Regions from separate parts of the Homo sapiens genome. Here regions 1 and 2 are each linked to region 3. Evidence: fine-mapped expression QTL. A gene starts in region 3. Each other region holds a variant in brackets. All regions are shown on one strand. Distances are from middle to middle. Region 1 has its middle 72 kb from the start of PTH. Region 2 overlaps BMAL1 (basic helix-loop-helix ARNT like 1). Region 3 holds the start of BTBD10 (BTB domain containing 10).

Region 1 (6,444 bases), 100 kb after region 3:
TTCTAGTGCAAGGACCACACTTTCAGTAGCCAAGGACTAGAAGCTCCAGTTCCCTAGCAGGAGGGAAATCCCTGACTTTCATGAACAAATAATGTTTCTTTTCGCTGAGTGTGGTTGAAGAGAGGGAACTGTTCATTCAGTTTTTACAATGAGTATTTGAGCATACCTGTGAGATTAAGCATAGGTAGACTGAGCAACAGTAGTTTTTCCTCTAGGAATCCTGGATTTGGCATCCAGTGATGTAATTTCAAATCCTAGCATCACCACTTATAATCCATTGTAGCCTTTGGCAAATTACTAAAACTCTTCAAGCCTCTCATAGAGTAGTACGAAGATGAAATCAGGTAATATAAATGCATTTGGCCCAGCTCCTGACTTATAGATAGCATTTATTGTTGCTTAAATAAGAACTTCTTTGGCAATTCTTGCTAACTCAATTCATCAAGTAACCATAAAGAGCATATAAGTCCAGATCTGAGTTTAAGCCCTTACTCTACCACTTAGCTACACTAAGTAGCTGTACAATCATTAGACACTTGGGAGCCTGGTATTTCTCATATTTCTAATAAGGGGATTGGGTTGGATGATGTCTAACAATCCTCACAGCCCTAAGGGTCCTCATATCCCTAATTGTCCATGTCATTCTTGAGCACCTTTTCTCTGTGAGGCAAAGGTAGGCAAACCTTAAAAAGAAACTGTCTAGAGTCAGAATGAGCTGAATTGACACAGCAAACTGGAAGTTGGGGAAGAAAGAAAAAAAGAGAAAAACAAGAATCTGGAACATTCCTGCTCAGTTTTGGACCTGAAGATCTATTCTTTTTCCTGATCAAACTATCTTGCTTAGTATTCTCTGCCAGGGACATATCTCAGTCATCACTTAGGACTCCTTGGACTGACAGGTGGAGAAACCAAGCACACAAGGCATTATATCTGAAGGACGAGCTCAGCCATAATCCAAGTAGACTTTTGAGGGCCCCATCAGTCAAGCTACAGTCACCAGACAGGGAACAGATACGAAGTCTCCAGGAAGAGGGCATTGGCAAGAGTAAGGCAGTGTAGCTGGAGTTCAGGCTGAGAGGAGGGAACACCACAGCTCAGGGGCATCAAAATGGATCACTGGAATGTATTGTCTTTGGAGATTTGAGAGCAACCCAGAGACTCATTAAACTATATTAGGATTCCTGGATTGGGAAGATAAATGTTACTAAATCCTTTCAGATATGTATATTTGATATTATTTCATAATTCTTTAATCTTATAAAGTTTGGGAACTAAGGCAGAACAGATCTTGGGTCAGACCATATGCACAAGATATCAGCGGAAGAACTGGGGAGGACAAAGGGAGGAGAAGCAACACCACTGTGCTGGGAAATAGAAGTCAAATGACATACCTTTTAGACTATGTAAGGCCCTAGACTTTCAGCCAGTTCCAGAAGAGTAGGAAGCTCTACCAAGAGATCTTGAACCTTCTGTTAATCTAGAGGATGCGGATAGCTATTTACTTGGGGGAAAAAAAAACAAAAAACAAAAACACAGACCATCACTCTATTTATATGCTGATCTGTGGGGCAGTTTATACTATACACATAATGGAATGCTGCAAAACAGATTTTTTTATTTTTATTTTTTTATTTTTTTTTTGAGATGGAGTCTCGCTCTGTCCCCAGGCTGGAGTGCAGTGGCACAATCTCGGCTCACTGCAACCTCCGCCTCCTAGGTTCAAGCGATTCTCCTGCCTCAGCCTCCTGAGTAGCTGGGACTACAGGCACGCACCACCATGCCCAGCTAATTTTTGTATTTTTAGTAGAGACAGGGTTTCACCATGTTGGCCAGGAAGGTCTCAATCTCCTGACCTCGTGATCCACCCACCTTGGCCTCTCAAAGTGCTAAGATTACAGGCGTGAGCCACCGTGCCCAGCACAGAACAAATTTTTAAAATGATGATACAGACATACATTTATACATTTACTTCATGGAAAGATCTCTACAACATACTATTGAGAGGGAAAAAGCAAGTTATAAAGCAGCATATATAAAGCAGCATGATCCCATTTATGTACAATGAGTCACAAGATCAGTAATAAGTATGTCCTCTTCATTTGGCTGGGTATAACATAAATTCAAATTTCCTTTACTGTTCAAATTATAACGCTAGTTCTATTCTACTCAGCTCAGCAGAAAATAGTTTTCCTTAATGACGTTCTTTCATGTCAATTTTGTTTCACATCTCTTTTCATGAAACCAACTTTTAGTTTCTTTCTTTTTTTTTTTTCTTGAGACAGGTCTCCCTCTGTCTCAAGGCTGGACTACAGTGGCATGACAATAGTTCACTGCAACCTTGATCTCTTGGGCTCAAGGGATCCTTCCATCTCAGCCTCCCAAGTAGATGGGACTACAGGTGCATGCCACCATGTCCAGCTTATTTTTTCTTTTTAGTAGAGACAAGGTCTTGCTGTGTTGCCCAGGCTGGTCTTGAACTCCTTGAGCTCAAGTGATCCTCCCAACTGGGCCTCTCAAAGTGCTGAGATTACAGGTGTAAACCACCTCACCCAGCCTAATCTTTATTATTTTCTTCCTTCTACTAGCTTTGGGTTTAGTTTGCTGGAATGTACAAAGTTAGATTATTCCTTATATAACAGAATTCTTTTTTTCTTTTTTTTGAGATGGAGTCTCGCTCCAAATGACAGAACTCTTAAATGAGTTGTCTAAGTGAGCACACTTTGTCATTGCTAGGAGAACTTGAGGGTTCAAATGTACCACTACTTTCCAAAGTAGCCCTTGACTTCCCAAATTATAGCTCTTTAGGGGCGGATTCTTCCATTGTTCACATACACAACACTCACTAGATCACAAGATTTCCCTCATAAAAACCGAAATAGTGCAGAGGTTGATATCTACTGCCCATAGATTCTAAATCTTCCTAACCCTAACTTCAGTGAAGAAGCCAGACCACTGCCCACTCTGTTTTGATGGTCATAGGCACTGTTGTCTGAAAGACCAGTTGACTGCCACACTAAATAAGTGAATATCAAAGAAGGATATGAAACTCATCCCTCTTGGAGGCACCAGTGGAGCTTACTGTAATTTTTCCTCCTGTGCTATAAATTTCAGATTCTGCACATCACACATGTACGAAGAAATATGACC[G/A]GAAGGATTTTTCACTAAAATGCTAACAGTCATGGAATAATTTGGGGGATTTATTTTATTTTTTTAAATTTGTTATATTGTTGAATTTTTAGAACAATGAAGATATGTAATTTTTATAATTAGAAGAGTAATAAACAGCTAGCACTTATTAATCACTTGCTATCCACAAACATTTTACACCTGATCCTTCACAGGACCTCTATAAGGTACATACTGTTGCTATCCTCATTTACCAATAAAGAAACTGAGACAGAAACAGATCAAGTAATTTGCCTGAGTCACACAGCTGAGAAGTGGCAGAGCCAGGGTACAAACCTAGATAGTCTGTTTTCATTTTTTTTTTCCTTTTAGAGACAGAGCCTTACTCTATCACCCAGGCTGGAGTGTGGTGGTGCAATCACAGCTCACTGCAGCCTCATCCTCCTGGGCTCAAGTGATCTTCCCATCTCAGCCTCCTGAATAGCTGGAACTACAGGTGTGCACCAGCATGCCCAGCTAATTTTTTAATTTTTTGTAGAGATAGGGTCTCACTATGTTGCCCAGACTGGTCTCAAATCCCTGGGTTCAAGTGATCCTCCTGTCTCAGCCTCCCAAAGTGCTGGGATTACAGGCATGAGCCACCATGCTTAGCCTGTTTTACCTACTATGTTTATTGTATAAAGATTTTTTACTTGAGGTAAGGAGAAGTAAACTAGTAAGAATCCAAAGATGAATATATAAAGTATATGCTCAATACATTAATGTTACATTTTGAGGGGGTTACATTCTGGTTGTGCCAAAGGGTATATTTCAGGATCTTGCCACATTACCATCACTGATAAAAGTCTACCAAGTATTTAAGTGCTACTGTAGCCCATTCTCAATCATGATCAAATGCATGAAGAAATGTTCTTTGCTATTCAAATTTATTTTGCTTGGGGCAAACCTAAAAATGATCACTAAGCAGACACTGCTAAATAACAGATCTACAAATAACATTCTGGCACAAAGCAAGTTGCAGCTTTGTTGAGAAGCACCAGCTAGCAAGGCTAGTTTTAGAAATGATTAAGAAAACAGGTATGATTATATAGTCGGTCATATTTTAAAGCAAATGTAGATGAGCAGGAAGGTGAGGTGAACAAGGGGCTGGCACAGTCCAGTGACTGAGTGAGTAACACTAAGAGGTGGATCACTAACAGATGGTAATGGGCTTAGATGGCCAGATGTACTTAACAGTGTAGTTAGGCACAGACAGTAAGCACTTCTGAGCCAGAGAAGTTGACTTCTGTACCTTCAAGCTCCAAACCTTCTGCTCATTGTACACTAACATACTGTGTTTCATAGGCTAGCAATGCCAACTGTTGTAGAAAAATATTGATGAAAGTAATTGAAAATTCTAACAAAACCTAATTCCATGTTATAGCTAAATTAATACATTAGTATAGTCTCCTCCTTGGTGTAATAATTTCTCAAGAATATATTCCATTAAAGCCCTAGTATACTTATGCCACCTCCTCTATGTCACTAATTCTCCACTAGGTCTCTTTCTGCTTCCAGAAAAACTGTTATGCACAGAAAACTTGGATGTACACAATCCAATCTGAGTTATATTAACATAATGGCATTAAACAAACTCACATCCATTAGGATGGCTACTATCAGGAAAAGAAAAAAAACAAAAAACAAAGATAAAAAGTGTTGGCAAGGATGTGGTGAAATCAGAAGTCTGTGCCCGATTGGTGGGATTGTAAAATGGTACAACTGCTGTGGAAAACAGTGTGGCGGTTCCTCAAAAAATTAAAAATAGAACTACCATATGATCCAAGGGTCTTGAAAAGATATTTGTACACCCATGGTCATAAGCAGCACAATTCAAAATAGACAAGCGGTGGAAGCAAACCAAATGTCTCTCAACAGATGAATGCATAAATACAATGTGGCGTATACATACAATGCAATATTATTTAGCCTTAAAGAGGATGGAAATCCTGTCACATGCTGTAACATGGATGAACCTGAAGGATATTATTTTAAGTGAGACAAGCCAGTCACAAGAACATAAACACGGTATGATTCTACTTACATGAGCTATCTGCATTATTCAAATTCATTGAGACAGAAAGTAGAATGGTGGTTACCAGGGGCTGGACAGACGGGGAAGAGGTAGGTTGTTGTTTAAGGAGTATATGGTTGCAGATTTGCAAGACAAAAAAGTTTTTGAAATCTGATTCACAATAGTATGAGTATACTTAACACCACAGAACTTTATTCTGAAAAATGGTTAAGATGGTAAATGTTATGTTTTTTACCATAATATGTTTTAAAAACTTCACAAAAAATCAAAATGTTAAACATAAAAGAAAATGGATTAATTAGACTTGATAAAAGTTAAAAATACATTGGTCCATACCAAGATGTCCAAATAGGAAGAGCTCTGGTCTGCAGCTCCCAGCGTGATCGATGCAGAAGATGGGTGATTTCTGTATTTCCAACTGAGGTACCTGGTTCATCTCATTGGGACTGGTTGGACAGTGGGTGCAGCCCAGAGAGGGTGAGCCGAAGCAGGGTAGGGCATTGCCTCACCCGGGAAGTGCAAGAGGTCAGGGGATTTCCATTTCCTGGCCAAGGGAAACTGTGATAAGGTATACCTGGAAAAACAGGATACGCCAACCCAAATACTGCACTTTTCCCATGGTCTTAGCAACTGGCAGACCAGGAGATTCTCTCCCATGCCTGGCTCAGCAAGTCCCACGCCTATGGAGCCTTGCTCACTGCTAGCACAGCAGCCTGAGATCAACCTGTGAGGCTGCAGCCTGGCGGGGGAGGGGTGTCCACCATTGCTGAGGCTTCAGTAGGTAAACAAAGCTGCTGTGAAGCTCGAACTGGGCAGAGCCCACCGCAGCTCAGCAAGGCCTACTGCCTCTCTAGACTCCACCTCTGTGGGTAGGGCATAGCTGAACAAAAGGCAGCAGAAACTTCTGCAGACTTAAATGTCCCTGTCTGACAGCTCTGAAGAGAGCAGTTGTTCTCCCAGCATGGTGTTTGAGCTCCGAGAATGGATAGACTGCCTCGTCAAGTGGGTTCCTGACCCTCGTGTAGCCTGACTGGGAGATGCCTCCCAGTAGTGGCTGGCAGATGCCTCATACAGGCGGGTGCCCCTCTGGGATGAAGCTTCCAGAGGAAGGATTGGGCAGCAATATCTGCTGTTCTGCAGCCTCTGCTGGTTTTACCCAGGCAAACGGTCTGGAGTGGAACTCCAGCAAACTCCAACAGAACTGCAGCTGAGGGACCTGACTGTTAGAAGGAAAACTAAAAACA
Region 2 (6,444 bases), 81 kb before region 3:
AAGGCACAACTCTGATGTTGAACTGCAAATGGATCATGGGATAAACTGGTTTTACTTTAATACATAATAGTATTTCTTCCTCAGTTTTCCCCTTTCCTACTCTCAGATTCCTTTGTTGTAGGTGGCCCAAAGAGGACCCACCCCACTGTTCCAGGGATTCCAGGGGGAACCCGGGCTGGGGCAGGAAAAATAGGCCGAATGATTGCTGAGGAAATCATGGAAATCCACAGGCAAGTAACACCTTCTAGTTCCTCTGTTAAACCAGTGGTTCTCAACCCAGGGAAATTTTTTCCCCCAGGCAATATTTTGCAATGTCAGGAGACATTTTTGGTCTTCACAACTGGGTGGGAGGTTGCTACTTAAACATCCTGTGGATAGAGACCAGGGATGCTGCTTGTTAAACATCCTACAGTAAACAGGACAGTTCCCTCCTCCCCACCCAACAAAGAATTATCCAATCCAAAATGTTAGTAGTGCCTAGATTAAGAAATCCTGCCTTAAATAAAGAAGCTAAACCAAAATAGCCCAGCGCTAAAGAGAATTCTTGAGAAGACTTAACTTTCTTATGGCTCAAGGAGCTTCTCAGTGCGGATAGATGTACCTTTACTTTACAGGAATGCAGGAGTAGAGCTGTGAACTATCAGAGTGATCTGGACCTTAACAAAACATTCACTTTTTTTCAATCAAAGAGCTGCCCAGGATTAGTACTAGAAACCAAGCAGATCAGCTAGTTATTACTAGCTGTCTTGGGAGAGACTTCCTTTCCATATGAAAGAGAAGGAGCTTAGAAGCAGTCCACCTGGGTCTGAGTCCTGGGCCTGTCTCTCTACCTGGCTATGCTGAGACTTACTTAACCTCTTGCTCTCTGTTGATTTAAACCATAAAAAGAAAGCACTATTTCCCAAGAATTGTGTTAGGATTGTGAGGGCACTCAGGAAAGTTCCAGGAACACAGCCTGACATATAGTGAGTGCTTAAAAATTAATTAAATCTGTCTTTAAGAGCAGTCGAGAGGGAAGCAGTTATCATAAGTCTGTCCAAATTTGGGGAATAGAGAAGGTGGTAACCAGATTCTTCAGAACGAAACTTAATGTAACATAAGAAAAGGAAGAAAACACTGCTGCCGCTGGATTCTCTCAGGAGAATTAGAGGCTGGCCTGTTTTCCAATTGGCCATAAAGGGGCTGTTATCCCCCTATAGGTAACACAGCTCTTTTCCAACCCCACAGGATTAGTGGGTGTGACTTCTGCATCAGGAAGGAGACATGAGGGTAGTGTGCAGTGTAATCAGGTTCAAACCCTATACTTTGCATTTGCATACCCTGTATTTTGCTTGAGACCATCCAAGAACAGTATCAAACAGTCCTTGACCTCAAGAATTTTAAAATCTTTTATAAGTCTATTTTCTTTATGATAACAGGAAAAAGGGAGGGTGCATGGGCCAAAGCAAGCAAAAGAGGAAAGATTTGAACTTGGCCTTAGCCAGGGTTTGCAATAAGAGTGGATGTTCCCTCTAGAAAAGCCAGGGCTATTCTTGAGTGGGCATGTGAGTGGCAAATTCAGGGTCAAGAAACAAGCTACCTAACTGGGCAGGCTTTGTGTAGGAAGGAGACACAGAGCTATGATAGGCGATTAAGAAACACAAGAAATGATACTGTGCAGTTTGGAAGAAACCTGTAAGACCCCATTTGTTGTAGGATGCTGAACAAGCATCCAAAGTCTTGTGTTACGCTTTGTGGAAGTTGCATTGGAATAGGGAGAGATGAAGGTGGGCATGTTTGACAACTCAGGAATGAGGCCTTATCCTACAGAGATGACACTGCCAAAAGAGAAATCAATCATCTAAGGTCTAGCGTTTGAAGATGAAATCAGGAATGATGAAACAGCAATTCCAAGATGAGAAACCTGGGAAAATAGTGGTTTCATAGACATAAGTAGAGAAAGGTGGGGGACACTCAGCAATTTTTCCGTAAGCAATTAGCAGCCGTTTGTGCATGCTGAGAATACATGATATGTAGTTGTAAACTGCCGTTAAGAAGCTTCTAATCCAGAAAGAAAACTTGTTCACTCATAAATCTAGAGAACTAGGCAGTACAAGAACCAAAAGACTTCTGGGTGGTGGAGGAGTGGTCTCTGGGTCACCCAAAAGCTACATTCATCCATGTAGGAGCTGAGAGTCCTGTGGTTACACAACTGCCATCACACTCTCCCTAAACTGTAGCTGCAATGCCAAGTGATGGATTCTTTCCTGAGGTCCTTCAGCCTGACAAGTATTTAGGTGGATTTACAGTTCTAAGTCTTCCCTTCTATAAATCTTCTGAGAGATATGCTAGATAAGAAAGGCCTGGACCCATTTTTCATCAACCACTGCCTTCGAAGGCTGCTTTTCCTGTCACTACTACTAGGCTACCTTTTAGACCCTGGTGCCGTCCATGTCCTAAGAGTATTCACTAGCTAAACAGTGTTTGTGGAGAAGGGGACAAATTGTTTTCTGTGGATCAAAGATGGAGGTTGATCTTAGAAGTTCTCCTCCAATTCACCTGGATTCTGTGAGGAAATAAAACTGGCCACTTACTTGAAATTCACCAACTGAATGCAAACTCCAATCCAAGGGCTTTGTCAGTGAGATGCTTGACTCTAGGGACTGCATTCTAGATCAGGTGCCTGTAGAACAAATCCAGCTTGTCATCTGTTTTTGTAAATAAAGTTTTATTGGAACACAGCCACACCGATTCGTATCTGTGGCTGCTTTCAAGCTGCAGAGGCAGAGTTGAGCATTTGTGACAAGACACCATATGGCCTAGAGAGCCTACTATCTGGCCCCTTACAGAAAAAGCTTGCCAAACCCTAATCTAGATCTTCATCCCCTTTCTCACCTTTACCCCTTAACAAAGCACATACACTCCACTGAAAAAAGAAAAGGCAGTGTAATTCTCTTTTCTGACAGGATAAGAGGGTCATCGCCTTCTAGCTGTGGCTCCAGCCCATTGAACATCACGAGTACGCCTCCCCCTGATGCCTCTTCTCCAGGAGGCAAGAAGGTAAGACTGATGATTCTTAGCCTAAGCTAGAGAACCTCTTGCCCAAGATCTGAAATGTTGGGGGTGGGAGTATGGAATTGCAACTGCGATTGCTGAAACAATTTGGACTACTTCCTCCTTGAAGTAAATGCATCTGTGTGAGGCTGGATACAAAGCATACTGGTAGGGCTAGGGAGGCTTGCTGACATCCTCAGAGGCTTTCTTCCATGTGAGTGGAAGAAGGGAGAAAGAATAAGGAATGGGGAACTGTCAGTTCATTTAATTGAGGGAGCAATTCAAGAGTTCCCATGAGGGAAAGATTATTGAGTACCTCACATAGAAAAGTTTCTCATT[T/C]TCTGCCAGGAATTTTCAAGGGAGAAAATATTAGTGTCTAGGGCAGGCAATGGAAACAGCAATGCCACCAGCAGTGCTTTGGAAATCAAGCCATGCTTTATAGCTGCAGAATACTTGGGGATCTGCTGCCTGGGGGTTCCATTGGTGTGACAGCATTGGATCCAAGCAGTGGATCAATCACCAGCCCTCATGAAGAGCTTGCTATAAGACTACACTATAAATAGGTTTAGGAACCAGTCATTTGTTTTCATCTTTGCTGGAGAACTTATAAGCCTAGGCCCATCTTAATCGTAAATTATAAATCTGTTTATATTGCCTGATGCCAGTAGAGCTTAGGACAGTTTAAAGGCCATCATTTTGGACACAATGGCTTCCTTTCCCCATCTCCTAAAACAGAGAGAGAGAATATCAGGAATTTCCATAGGCAGGACTCCTAGGGCACAAACCATCAAAAGCAGGGCAAGGATTTTCAAAACTGAGCTCCTCGGAGGTTTGTTCAGGTTACCAAGAGCTGTGGTGTTACCAGGTGGGATGGGCGTGGGGATAGTTGCTAAGGAGAGAGGGTAAGAGTAGAAATCCTGCTTCTACAAGGGCAGCAATACTTCTTTTTTATACAGGAATCTTCTGCAAACATTTCTATTTGAAAAAGCGTTTTGCTCCCCCCAAAAAAGGTTGAAAGTTAACAAATTAATGGGTAAGACTACAAAGTAAGACCTGGGTTCGAAGCTTGGCCTTGCCATGTGCTAGTTATGTGAACTTGTACAACTTTCAAGCCCTAGTTTTCTTTATAATGGAGCTAATAATGGTTAGGGTAGCCAGCATCTTTGCACGAGGTCCTACTGTGAGATAATATATGTGAAAGTGCTTGGCCCAAAATACCACTGACAGATGAAGTCTGAGCTTGGTGTCCCGTGACCCCCGCCCCCCTGCCCACAACACACACACTGCTTGCCAGCTGTCTTCTTAGCTGTTCTTCTGTTATACCTCCAGGTCCTTCCTGCATATTGGATCCACCATCTTCTTAGGGTGGTCTTCCAGTCTCTGCTTCTTAAGTTAACTTTTAGGCACTTGACTTGACTCCTGGTATTACCAAGGATTCTACTTCTTGGTTTTGAAAGGTTATCAGTCCAGTATAGGCTTAAATATTACTCAAAGAACTTTCATATACATTGTCTCATCTCACCTTCACAACATTATAGTGACAAGATCCAGGCTCCTCAGCGTTCGTTTTATAAGTATGGCCCCCAGGCTACAATCCTGGGCTCATGGCTTCCAATTCTTTTCACATCAACAACTACCAGAAATCAAAAGCTGTGCTCTGCATCATAAAGCCCCAGCTATTTTTGAGGCACTTATGAAAATTCTCCCTTTTCTTTGAGAAGAATGGATTATAAAATGGATCTGTGAGAAGAAATTTGGATGTGTTCTCACGAGATGAGTCCTGGGCAGCAGGACTTATAAGAAAAGCAGCTTAAACAAGACAGTTAAAACTGACAGCAGTATTAAATGGTGCACCATACCCAGCCCTTTCCAGTCACTTTCAAATTTGGAAGGTCCAAAAATGAACCATTTAGCCTGCAGTTGTTTGTCAGGATCAAGCTAAAAAGGAAGCCTAAGTGAGCCTCCATAGGTCGCAAGAGAGTACAGACATCCAGAAGCACTAAGGAAAATTCAGATAAAGCAGCAGTTCTACAAATGTCATCTGCAGTCTTTTTCCAGAAAGAGAGGGGGCACAAGATCCTTTTAAGGGTCTGCAAGGTTAAAGCTATTTTCTTAATAACATTAAAACGTTAATTTTTTCCCTGTATTGATAATGTGCACTATTCATACTAAAAGCACGGTTGGGTAAAATTGCTGGCATTTTACAAAAATCAGACAAGTGGCACCAAACTATACTAGTAGTCATTGTATTCTTCACCACCACACACTCACAGTAAAAAAATAGTTTAAAGCCAGTTTCATTTAAGATTGTCCATCATGGCTAGGTGCAGTGGCTCACCCCTGTAATCTCAGCACTCTGGGAAGCTGAGGCAGGCAAACTGCTTGAGTCCAGCAGTTCCAGGCAAGTCTGGGCAACATAGAGAAATCCCATCTCTACTAAAAAATACAAAAAAAATTATCCAGGTGTGGTGGTGTACCTGTAATCCCAGCTACTCCGGGGACTGAGGTGGGAGAATCACCTGAGCCCAGGAGGTTGAGGCTGCAGTGAGCTGAGATTGTGCCACTGTACTCCAGCCTGGGCAACCAGAGTGAGACCCTATCAAGGAGGGAAGGAGGAAAGGAAGGAAGGGAGTGAGGGAGGGAGGGAAAATGTCCATCATTACTTTTATAAAATTCTCAAGCACACATCTTTTTAATGCTCTGTGACAAAATGAGAAGTACACAGAACTTGTGCTGCATACCAAAGTATGATGTTTGTCTCAAAAACTACTTGTGTGATTAAGTTGTGAGTTGAACTAGCTACTATTTTCATTGGACACCATTTTTATTGTATATGGTCATTCGGTTTTGGGTATTTAGAATACTTTTTTTTTGGAAATGAATGAAGTGAACCTGTCACTTTAAGGAAAATGACTGACATTTGTTGCCAATGATAAAATCTGAGCTTTCAAGCAAAAATTGGAATTTTTAGAAAACTTGTCTCTGCTACTTTGACCTTGAGATCTTCCTAAAACTTAAAAAATGTTGTTGATGAGATAGGGAGTATTAATAATAGTGATATTTTGATGCTCTATAATGAAATGTGTCAATATATAGAAGATCTGCATAACTCAGTGAACCAATATTTTGTAACTAAACAATGCAAGGTATTTCAAAATCATGTAAGGGTAAAAGATCCATCCTAAGTGCCAAGATATAAAGAGTACAAAACATTCATTGATATGGTTTCAGATTCCACATTGCAACTCACCTTTAAGAAACTTCTACGTGTCAAGTTTTGAAGTGGTATCAAAAAAGAATACAATTATTTGAAAAGTCTATTAAAATATGCCTCCCTTTTCCAACTACTTATCTGTGGGAGGTTGGATTTCCTTCATATACTTGAATCACAAGACGTATCTAAATAGACTG
Region 3 (6,444 bases):
ATCTATTAAAAAGGGAGAAAAATTTTAATAGTTCTTTCTCCATTAACAGGAGAAGGTAACATCTGTATCTTCCTGACCCGCCTTACTTTCGGTTCAGAATCAACAAAAAATAAAGGATCCAAACAGATGATGGTAAAAATATAACTAAATCCAACGTGCAAAAACCCTTATTACTTCAACTGCAAATTAAACTTACCCAGTTAGAACTGTAGGCATTCCATTTCCTTCTCCCTCATAGTATTAGTAGTCCAGCCTGCTCAGATAAGCCTACCATACAAATGAATAGACAATGTATAGCCTAAGAATTGAGAGTCCCAAAAATTGAATCATAAGGCACTGAACAAAAGTATACTCAATCCCTTCCCTTAGCCTCCCCTGATCCTCCTTTGGGATGGCAACTCAGGGGATGGGAAGAAGCGGAAAGCTATTTCCAAAAAAGAACTTCCTACTTTATGAGTCATGGTAGAAACAAGTAAAGACGAAAATAATGGTTCCCCCTTCAACAAGCACAATCTTCTCAAATATAAAACAAATTCCTCAGAAGTAGTCTTATAACTCTTCAACAGGAGCACCTCACAAACATAATACATATCTCCTCTTCTTTCATTTCCTATTTCAGAGAGAGGCAGAGATTGAATGAACAGATATTAGCCTAGCTTGGCCTGAGATGACTGAGCTAAAATGAAGAAAAGAAAATCTGCAAATTCCCATAGCAGTCCTGATTAAAAACCAGTATTCTATGTAGTCTCTGCACAAGTTATGATAAATTTAGCCACAAAAGGCAGACCTCTTTTTAAAACTGCACAATACACAAATGGGTACTTAATCATTTCATCTTCCTTTTCAAAATTCTCTCCCTTACCTAACTTCCTCTCTCACCCTTATCCCAAGTGAAGACCCCCAACTTGCCCTCTATATGCCTAAAAAACACCTCTTACTTAGCTTTGACCTCTAGCACTCCCATTCCCCATAACCCAACTAGGTATGAATCAGATTATGTGATTAAATTACTTCACATTAATGGGTAAATGAGGCTTAATCCACAAAGGTCAATTCCACACGTCATTAAACTCTACTATGTATAAGGCACTAAGTTTAATCAATTAATATACCTATCCTTCTTACAAGAAAAACTAACACAAATCAATCTTTTAATGAACAATGTAAGGAAGGGGCACAAGAGTGTTTGCTTCACATCACACTTTCTCCACCCAGTTCTTTCCATCCTGTTGCCAAACCCCTCCAATCTCCATCTGGCATGGAATAAAATCCAAGGGATCAGTATTTCTTCCAGTAAGTCAATGCCTAGGAAGACAATGTGGGATAGCACAGCAAACAATAAACATTCAAATCCTGAAATGGACTGTAGAGGGTCTCTTGTATTTAATTTTATATATTAGCTGCAAATACAATAAAGAGCTTCTAAATAATTCAATTTCTGTACAAGATACCTATAAATCAGCTTTGCTCAGAACTCTGAGTTTTTAAACCATAAATACTGAGATGCTTTTTCTTCAGTTATTTCCACAGTTAAAACGTTTATAGTAAATACCAGTTCAAATTGCCCTACTATAACTATACTTAAAGGCTATTAAACTTAACTACTGTTTTCAATTAGATGTGACATTTTTCCCAAGACCCCTTAAGTTTGAAACTCCAAACTTGCTTTAAACCTCCTTTTTTTCCAGTCATAAAATTTATTAATTTTGATTTATAACAGAGCTTCTAAACTGGAGAGGAGAATACAACTATGGACAGGTTTGGATTTGATTCAGTCACATGATATTTTTAATGGTTTTAATTAGTTGTCAATATTTTTAAGACGCAAGACACTGAATGCAAAAATCTAGATTTCCGAGTTCTCTTGAGAATGCTGAAGATGGGGTCCATATTCTTATATAGCACTGATTAGGGGGACCTGAGACTTGGATGTCTCTCTGATAAGGCATAGTGCATTTCCCTCATTTTCATTATCTAACTAGTACCCGAAGGCATGTGAGTTTGTTGCTCATGCTATGGCTTTGAAAGGTGCACAATATTTTCCATATCACTTCCATACTTCCCTAAGTCACCTATTATAAAAAGCCAAAAGCAGACCACAGTGGTTTGCAACTCCATAGTTAATAATTTAAAAAATTCACATGGCTTAGAGGGAGTGAGAAAGAAGAAAATTCAGACTGGTGGAAGGGTAACATAATTACATAGGGTTAGAAGTCTATCTGAAAGCTTTTCTGGGAGTGAGAAAAAAGGTGAACGAACACAAAAACATTGTTGAAACACTAAAAGCTTTCCTGATTGAACACTGTTACTCTCTGGTGGTTCCTTACCACATTCCATGCTTCAGAAACTTCCTTCCTACTTTGTATGTATTAATATAATAGCTGTTAGGTCATACACGCTGAGAAATATTGGGAAAATTTATAAAACACATTTACATCATCAGAAATAATTCTTCTCACACTTTTTTTTTTTTTTTTTTTACCAGTCTTGGTCCACTTTCAAATCCCTTCCCAAGTATTTTCTACTGCTTTCCGCTTTATATTCAAATGACAACTGCAGTCCTGGGTTTCAGGACTGAACTTCAATCCTGGACAGGCTCTCTAATACAGAAACTCTTTTGGCCGTTATGGCTGCATTCTTTATTATATCTCTTATTCCGATTTCCACAGTCTCTTTCATTGAAAATTTATCCCTAACCCCCTCTCTAAAAGATTTTGATCAAATTTGTGTAGTTGGGGGGTTGGGAGGATAGGGGCGGGAAGGAACTCAGTTGTCCAAATACAATTAATATCCTGTGCTGTTTCATTTAGATTGCTAATTTAAATAAAAAGCATGAAAACTCTGCAAGATAATAAATCTTCGTAAAATAATCTTGTTTACTAAGTGCACAAAGCCACAAGCAAGTGAAGCTCTATCTTTCAGCATGTCTGGACTAGTGACTTTTCATCATGGACTCAGAATACTGAGAAAGGAGAAGCAGGAAATCTGTGAGGCCCAGGGACAGTCACACTGGCCCACACTAACAAATTACTAACCGATGTCTCACCTTCCCCCGCCCCATTCCCAAAGATAAGGGTGTCAGGGCACCTGCATCTGAAGAAGAAAGACATCAGAACCTTTTCCGTGCAAGTTTTAAGAAAACAAAGCTTTACCACACGTAAAATGGTTACAACATAAAACCACGCAGCACGTTAGTGGGGTCTCACTCCTCTTCACCCAGAGGGAGGCTGCCCACCACCTTATCCCCTATTGTGATGCGCCTTCCTCAGGATGTCGCTGCGTTCGTCTGAGATGACAGGAAAGGGGCGGGGCACGGGGTTCCTCTGCCCTGGAAAGGGATGAGGGTATCGCCTTCATCCCCGGAGAAAGGCCCCCGGACTCCCAACCCAAAAGCAGCAGCCGCAAAACTCAAGTCTTATCCCGGCCTCTCCTAATTGGGTGCTCGTGGCCGGAGCCCAAAACGCCACCCACGGTACCCGAGCAGGGTCCGGCCGCCCAGACCACCGCCGCAGCAGCCTGGCTCTCACGCCCAGATTCGCCCTCCGCCCCTTTCCTCTTTCGCCCCGGCCAAGCCCAGCCTCCCGCGCCGCCCCCGCCGAGTTCCCCAGCTGAGTCCACTCACTCTCGAACCTGTAGTCCCCCTTCAGTGCCCACACAAGATTGGGGCAAAGGCCGGGGCCAGTGACACCTCCACTTCCTCCTCAGCCAGATCCCTCCGGAGGTGGCTGTGGAGGAAGCCACTGAGGCGGCTGCGCGTAGCGGAGCCGCCCCGGCAGGTTGCAGGCCGGCTCCTCAGCCTCTTACCGCGAGAGCTCACAATGCGAAGAGGCGAGGCCAGCAGCGTTCTCGCGAGAACGGTGCTCTCCGCCCAGGGGTGGGCGGGGCACCGAAGGAGAAGGCAGTTGAGGGCGCGGCGGCCACGGGTGGGATCTCAGGCGCGTGGAGAGGAAGGCGCCGCGCGACCTCTCCTCACAGACATCAGCTCGGGTCAACCGCGGGCCTCGAGCCCGAGTGGCTGAGGGCTGTTACCTTCAAACCTTTGAATCCCACGTTTTCCCCTTGACTTCCTGTCACCGTTAGAGAAAAGTGGACAGCGTCTCGGTCACAGAGTTGGAGAAATAGTGCAGGGACTCTTCAGGGAGAGCGTTTTCCTCATCAAAGCAAACTGCAAAATCGCTTCTGCCGGCGTGGACCTGATGAGAGTCGGTCGTCGTGAGGGACACCCTCTGTTCCCTAACGTCCCCCGCTGCTTATTTTTAAACGCTCGGTTGGCGGGAACCCCTGTGCCAGCTGAAACTCCTTCAGTTTGGCCGCCTAGGAAACACCGAGAGTCACCTACATGGGCTGGCTGGGCAATAAAAACGGGAAAAAATGTAAAAGACACAGTCTCCGCCTTCGAAGCTTACACCCCCGGGGCAAGACCTACAGGAAAATAGATAATCCCATTATTCTCTGATAAAAGCCGAGCTGCTTGCCATGAGCTCTGGGAGCAGACGGGGAGGCCTTGTTGAGAAAGCCTTCACCTGGGAGTGACAATTGCGCTGAATCTTAAGCATAAGTAAGTTCTCCAGTTTAGGGAAGAGAGGGAAGGGCATTGCAAGGAGAGGAAGCAAAGAGGAAGAGGACCTGGTTTGAGTAATTGGGTATGAAAACAGATATTGCAGCAAGAACTTTGTTGAAAAACCTTTAACCACTGTTTAGTTCGGATGAGAACATTCCCAGGCTCCTACGTGTGATACGCAAAGTATTTTCCAAATCAGTGTTTATGCTAAGAAGATGAGCAGTTGAGCTGGACAATTATAAGATAACTTCATCTTTCTCCTGTAAGGACACTTAAATATCAGAAACCTAAGAGAAACGGGTTATTGTCGTAATTCACTAAGTTATTATAGCCAACATTTTGCTAAATTGGAAATTGCCAATAATTTCAAGTTGTCTACATAAGAGCAATCTAATAGGAATTTTGTGATACAGTTTCTCAGAGAAACTCTGAGAAAATTCTCAGGCAAAAAACAAAAACGTCATCAGTCCTGATTTATTATCAAAATTTTCTCCTATAAGCTCTGCTCAGAAGAAGTCATTCTGTAGTCCAAGTTAGGGCTAATGAGGAGCCATACTCTTACATCAAAATAGAAGCTGTCCTTTTCTAAAGAAAGACTCTGGTATTTTGCTGTAGTTTCCACTCACCTTCCTTTGGACACATTATTTTCATATTACATATAAAAATATGTATACTATATGAAAAATACTATGTATACTATAGTTTTATTTGGCTTACCATACTCTCCCTACGAATAAGCCCAACACTTAGGAGGAAAACAAAAAAGTTATTCTAACCCTGCTGATACGGTTTGGATCTATGTCCCCACCTGACCTCTCATGTGGAATTGTAATCCCCAGTGTTGGAGGTCGTTGGATCATGGGGGCAGATTTCCCTGTTTTTGCCATTCTGGTGATAGTGAGTTCTGGTGAAATCTGTTCTTTAAAAGTGTGTGGCGCCCCCCCACCCCCGCCCCACTCCTCCCACCATATAAGACGTGCCTGCTGTACCTTGGCTTTCTGCCATGATTGTAAGCTTCCTGAGGCCTCCCCAGAAGCCCAGCAGAAGCCGTCGGACTTCCTGTACAGCCTGCGGAGCCGTGAGCCAGTTAAACCTCTTTGTTTTATAGCAGTGCAAGAATGGACTAATGCACCTGCCATAGGCCAATTGGGTGTTCTGTTAAGCATAATTTCACATCAAGTTCTTGGAATTTTCCAGGAAGCATTAGAAGAATCATATGAATGAAAGACTTCAGGCAAAATATGGAAACTTTGTTCCATGCTGGAATCTGTTCAAACCATCATATCCTACTTGGATGGGTCCTGGAGCTCATTTCATTCTGCTGTTCTTCAAAAACAAAAGAGAATGGGAGTTGGGAGAAAATAGAAAATCGAATAAAGTTTCTACTGTTCTTTGCTTTAAAAGAAAATTAATCGGCCGGGTTCGGAGGCTCGCGCCTGTAATCCCAGCATTTTGAAAGGTCGAGGCGGGCAGATCACGGGGTCAGGAGATCCAGACCATCCTGGCTAACATGGTGAAACCCCGTCTCTACTAAAAATACAGAAAATTACCCGGGGGTGGTGGCAGGCGCTTGTGGTCCCAGCTACTTGGGAGGCTGAGGCAGGAGAATGGTGTGAATCCGGGAAGCGGAGCTTGCAGTGAGCAGAGCTTGTGCCACTGCACTCCAGCCTGGGCGACAGAGCGAGACTCCGTTTCAAAAAAAAAAAAAGAGATAATTAACCTTTCAAATATTAAGGTAGTAGCACAGTAGCACTGGTAACAGTTATACATTTGGTAGGTAATGCCATAGATTTAGATAATCACAAATCTGCTCTACACGATAATTTGTAAATGCTAGCTGACTGCATAGGCTAAGGTTCAGAACTTTAATGAAAGTCTTTCTT

Evidence for each region.
Region 1: its variant is fine-mapped to the expression of BTBD10 in whole blood (INTERVAL, PIP 0.99).
Region 2: its variant is fine-mapped to the expression of BTBD10 in blood mononuclear cells (TOPMed, PIP 0.91).

The regions. Positions count from the first base shown.
Region 1 is chr11:13,564,316-13,570,759 of GRCh38, forward strand. No RefSeq gene overlaps it. Among named protein-coding and RNA genes, the nearest start is that of PTH, 72 kb to the left of the region's middle. The variant G/A (reference allele first, on the strand shown) is at 3,148.
Region 2 is chr11:13,378,216-13,384,659 of GRCh38, forward strand. BMAL1 (basic helix-loop-helix ARNT like 1) reads left to right here. Exons shown (of 20, transcript NM_001297719.2): 17 at 122-230; 18 at 2,946-3,039. Among named protein-coding and RNA genes, the nearest start is that of BTBD10, 82 kb to the right of the region's middle. The variant T/C (reference allele first, on the strand shown) is at 3,373.
Region 3 is chr11:13,459,470-13,465,913 of GRCh38, forward strand. BTBD10 (BTB domain containing 10) reads right to left here and starts at 3,753. Exons shown (of 9, transcript NM_032320.7): 1 at 3,623-3,753. RefSeq lists an enhancer at 3,933-4,122.